Regions from separate parts of the Homo sapiens genome. Here region 1 is linked to region 2. The links come from fine-mapping of genetic effects on gene expression. Tissue or cell type: whole blood. Region 2 holds a variant in brackets; the other region holds the start of a gene. All regions are shown on one strand. Distances are between the middles of the regions.

Region 1 (2,612 bases), 55 kb after region 2:
CTTACCCTCATTAATTAAGCCCTTATTTACCATTGTTCACAATATCTTCCAAAACAACCCCTTGAAAGGGTGACCATTTATTATCCCAGAAGAGAAATATGAGGTTCAGAGAGAAGTCACTTGGCCCAAACGATCAGGAGAAAAACCCACTCAGGAGAGTGGCTCTATGGCAAGACACGTGAACCGAGAGGTCAGTCTCCTTCCCCACCGGGAGCCTCACGTCAGTCCCCAAAAGGGAGTGGATTACTCGAGGTCCCTACCAGAGTTCTCAGTGCAAGGCTGCTCGAAGCCCTAAGCAGACCCAAACTCCAAAACTTCCTGAGCCTCGGGCCACAGCAGGGAAGTCTCCAAGGCCTTCTCTGGTTCTGGGGCTAGAGGGGCCTCGGGACTTCCCTGTGCGGTCCCGGCCCCACGCCTCCAACAGGACTCCCCAGGGACCCACCTCGCAAACCTTCTCTCCCATCCAGTCCCAAGCCTCTGTCTGGGATTTAAAACTCTGATCCAGAAGAGGGAGGCTGGCTGTCGTAGAAGAGCCAGCCTGAGGGAATGTCTGGGGGACCCTGTCGGGGAAATCCGGGGGGGTCCCAATCCTCCGACTGGCGCCGACCCGAGTCCTTACCAAGCAGCGGGGACTCCTCAGGGCAGGCGGGCAGCGACAGTGCGGTGGTGTGGGGCACTGGGACCGAGGTCAAGTTGCTAGCGGGGCCAGGGCCAGAATCCACGACTGGGCTGGAGTCGCCACCCGGGCGCGGCTGGGAGGAGGCGCCTAGAGGAGGCGGCGGCCGGGCCCCTCCGGTCCGGAGCTCCCCGGAGGACTGCCCGATGGCGGCGGCACTGTTCGAGCCGCCCTGCAGCGGTGTGGAGACTCCGACCAGTTGGGGCAGGCGGCTCAGGTCGCGGCCAGCCAGGTAGTAAACGAGGGTGACGCCAAGGTGCAGAGCGCAGACGGCCACGAGCAGGCGGCAGGCCCGCTGTAGGGACGCGCCTGGCATCGCGGCGCTGCCGCTCAGGAGCGGCTCCCGAAGCCTCATCTTCCCGCCGCCGCTTTAAGAAGGGTGTGGGCTACAGGAGGGGAGGCGACCCGCCCGCGGGCCGCCCGCCAGGCGCTGCCCCACAGCGGCGACTAGGGGAGGGCCCGGAGCGGGGGCGGGCGAGCGGCTGAGAGCTGAGACTCCTCCAGCCAGCCAGACCTGGGAGCGGCGAGAAGCCGCCCGAGGCGCCGGCGGAGAGGGGAGGGGCGGGGCCCCGGCGAAGGCGGGGGCGGGGCCGGGCGCGGGGTTTTCTGGACGAGGGCGGGAAGGCGGGGCAGCCCGTGGCGGGATGGGCGCGCTGGGCGGGGCCTCGGGAGGGTGGGCAGCGGGCGGGGCGCCGTCGTGGGGTCCCCGGAGTATGACTGCAGCTCCGACGCTTGGCCGCGCACCGCCCTCTTCCTCCCGAGCCTTTGCGGCGGAGCTTCGGTCGCGTTGAGCCGCGCCTCCTCTTCCTCCTCCACGCTGCCCTCGACAGGCCGCGCCACTTCCTGGGGTGCGAAGGGACTCGGGTGCGAGCCTGGGCCTGCAGCGCGGCGGCGGAGAGAACGGAGAGGACAGCTGGCGGGTGGTTATCTGGAGTGGTTTGGGGCCGCGGCGGCGTTCTGGCCAGTGGGCCTTGGTGGGCTAGGAAGAGAGGCAGAAAAAGGTTACCCAGGAAACGGGCTTCGACGCCGGGCGAGGAGTGGCACGTTCGAAACCCCCTCCCTAACTCAGCCCGGCTGGACCCCGCTGCTTAACGGGGGGTCCTGCGGCAAAGAAAGTGGACGGGTTGCCACTTCTGTGCCTCCCCATCAGGTAGCCTGGGCTATAAGGGGCTCTCAGACCAGCTTGGTTCCAGATGTGTGTGTGGCGGGAGTCCTGTATACTTTGAAGAGGAGAGCAGCAAGAAGCCTCTAACTCCCAGGCCAGCGTGCAGGAGATCAGCCGGCGTTACAGTCTACACTGGGCTACCCACTGTCCCATGAAGTAGCAGTTCTCCCCATGTCGTAGAGTGGGGCCCCGGCAGATTAAGAAACTTTCCTAAGAGCCCACAGCTGGCAAGAGGCAGAATTCTGGCTCCGAAACCCATGTTTTCTACAGGTTTACCCTTTGTTGATTTGCAAGTAAGGGCTGAAGGCTGTGTGGGTGAGAGACTTAGGCACTGAAGCCACTTGACCTCGATTTGACCCAGAGGCCTCAGGCCCTGAGTGAGCAGAGACACCTCACCCCAGAGAAAGACTCATGGAGGTGCTGTCAGTAATGTGGATAGGGAAGTTGAGGGCTCTGGCAGCCAACCATCAGGGAATAACAGTAGCTACCTTATTTTGAGAGTTTGCTGTGTGCCAGTACTATCTGCCATGAAGTAGGTGGTGTTACGGTGTCCATTTCACAGATGAGAAAATAAGGCTTATGAGTTGACACTTTGGTTGTGATCATACAGAATCAACTTTCCTCACTTGACTTCCTGGACACCAGGTCCTTCTGATCTTCCTCACTTCACTGGCCATTTCTGTCTCCTCTCTGGACTTCTTCCCCAGTTGCTGAAGGCCCCAGCCATAGTCCATGATGTTCTTTTGTGTCTACACTTACTGCCTCGGAATG
Region 2 (2,500 bases):
ACCCAGGAGGGCAGTGGTTTGGGGTCCGCCACGAGCACAAGGCTCAACCCTGGGATTAGGCAGCTGAGTCTTGGAACCTGAGCCCAGGCTGGACCTGGCAAAGGCGCTCAGTGGTAGGAGTGCCTTGTGTCATCTCATCCCAGGTGGCTCAATAGCTCCCAACAGAGGTGGGTTTGTGACAGACAGCCCTGTGGGTGGGAGCCTCAACTGGGGTGGGAGCACCTGTGAAAACCTGAGGTGGAACAGGAGGCTTTAGGCACCGAAGTTCTTGGGAGGGAGTTGGGGTGTGGGTTCGGCTGAACTTCTTTCTAGATCACTAATTAAAAGGCACATTCATGCTGGGGAATGGATAGTCTGTTTGACCCTGAGTGCCACAGTCAAGTTTTAGGGGACAGGCAAGAGGCAAAGGAACAAAAAGGGAGACGAAGGAAGGAATGAGAAAGGCAGGGGAAAAGAGGAAGGAGGAAGAACTGGTAACAAAGGGTGGGCCACGGAGTGTGGCTAGCAGAGCCTCTGAGGGAGGTGGCCCCCACCAGAACAGAGGCTCCCTCTGCCTGGGGAGGTGCAAAGGGCTGGTAAACAACCTGACTGCTGTTATTTACAACCCCCCAGCCTAGGGGCCTGAGGGGTCAGTCTAAGGAGGCTGAGGCTCCCTCCGCCCTGCCCACCTGGGGAGGGTTGGGGAAGTGGAGAGTTCTGCACAGTAGGTGCAGAGGCTTCTGTCTCCCAGGTATCCTCCCCGAGGTCTGGCAGGATAATGCTGACCGGGAGGCCTTACCTGCCAAGGGGCCAGAGGGTGATTTTGCTCTTGAGAAAACCTGGCCTGCCAGCTAAATCATAGGCCTATTTGTGGCCACTACAGCATATATTTATTTTTCTCCCTAAAAAATGCTCAATACCCCTCCCCATATTTAAAACACCACAATAAAAATACATAGGAAATTCAAGTTTACATAGCATGCCAAGAAAAATAAATTGTCATGACTTAACATTAAACAGCTATGCAAATTTGGATCAACACAAAATCAAGCTAGATCATAATTAGAACTCGATCTGTTCTTTCTTTAAAATACTACAAACTACTATTTAAAAAAAAACACAACAACTTTACATTCAGAAATCAGACAATCTGGAGATAGGCCACTGAATGCGAGAAACCCAAGGCTTTTGCTCTGATGCTAGAGTTGCCCTGGAATCCACACACATAGGACAAAAGGTCCAGGGCTCAAGTTTTAAAATCCTTTTGCTAAGAAAAGACATATGCACAGTGATTGCAGTGGTTGCATACCACTGAAAGAAGGGGGTGGGGGGAGGACGTAACATTAAGAATGGTTGAAATTTTGTGTTTTTCTGTTAAATTACAACTACCAAAAAGATCACACCAATCCAATTTTAGCAGCACTCTCCGAA[T/C]TTTCACGAATAAGAAAACCATAATTTAAAGAAAAATTCTAACCTATTTCACGACAATTTAGCAATTCTATCACCGGGAATGTGTTCCACGGCCACCAAATTTTGGGATGTGTACAGTTCTGACTCTGGGGTGACACTGCGAACACATCAAGAAACCCGCAAAGGCATAAACACCTTGCAGAGCTAAGAATTCACATGCCGAGCCAAGTTGGGGGCAAAATATCCCACTCGTCCTGGTCATCTGGAAAGCCATCTGAATGATGAGCGAAGGGGACCTGTCACTCAGACTGGTAAAAATGAGAGGGACCAGCCCAGCAGATTGGCAGAGACACACAGCAGAGGTCCCTGGCTAATTTCAGGTCTCTTATCCGTGTACCAAAACGCTAGCTCGGTGTCCCGATGTCCACTGTGATTTGGGTATACAATGGGTATCTCTGTACATCCAGCACCTGGTAGGTGAGTGAGTTCAAACCATCAGAGAGCATTGTCTCCTTTGTGTGTGCAATTCGGTCAAACCTACAAGGAAAAGAGCACAAGGAGATTGTCTTAAAACAAAAATCTTAAGAAGAAATCATCACACGTACTTCCTCCTCCCTCTCCACTGTAACCTGACCACCTCAATTTCCCTCTAGGCCCAGAGCCTCGGACCTGCAGCCTACCTCATCCTAAAGGGGGAAGGAGTATGAATAAACAAAGAATGCACCTCTGAGGATTGGGTTCATTTTTCTTGTCTCTTGAGTGGCGGATCATGCGACACCTCCCGACCACAGCATTTGGGCGAGATATAGACATGCCTCTAAAAACTAATCTGCAAAGAGTAAAGGGAAAGTCATTATCACAGAGCTGCCATACACTTGGCCTGAGAGCCCCGGCTGCAAGACTGTTGCTCCATCCACCATCACCCTTGCTGTTCTCACTCAGCCCACAACCCAGCATCATGCCAGAACCCAGCCCAGCATGACCCTGGTTAAAACTCACATTCCGACTCCATGTCCTTTTACAACTGGTTCTGCGGTTTGTGGTGTTGACTACCATGTGCCAGACACTGGGGCCGTGTGCCCCACAGAATATACAGTGTGAATGCTTCAAA

Evidence for each region. PIP is the estimated chance that this variant, and not a neighbour inherited with it, causes the effect.
Region 1: it holds the start of B4GALT1, and the variant in region 2 is fine-mapped to the expression of B4GALT1 in whole blood (TOPMed, PIP above 0.99).

The regions. Positions count from the first base shown.
Region 1 is chr9:33,166,139-33,168,750 of GRCh38, forward strand. It overlaps B4GALT1 (beta-1,4-galactosyltransferase 1), which reads right to left and starts at 1,198. Exons shown (of 6, transcript NM_001497.4): 1 at 620-1,198. The coding sequence starts at 1,031. It overlaps B4GALT1-AS1 (B4GALT1 antisense RNA 1), which reads left to right and starts at 810. Exons shown (of 3, transcript NR_108110.1): 1 at 810-908. RefSeq lists silencers at 950-1,223, 982-1,381 and enhancers at 1,049-1,614, 1,532-1,631, 1,615-2,179, 1,702-1,781.
Region 2 is chr9:33,111,661-33,114,160 of GRCh38, forward strand. B4GALT1 (beta-1,4-galactosyltransferase 1) reads right to left here. Exons shown (of 6, transcript NM_001497.4): 5 at 2,114-2,218; 6 at 1-1,926. The coding sequence ends at 1,794. Among named protein-coding and RNA genes, the nearest start is that of MIR12117, 4.2 kb to the left of the region's middle. RefSeq lists an enhancer at 1-530. The variant T/C (reference allele first, on the strand shown) is at 1,411.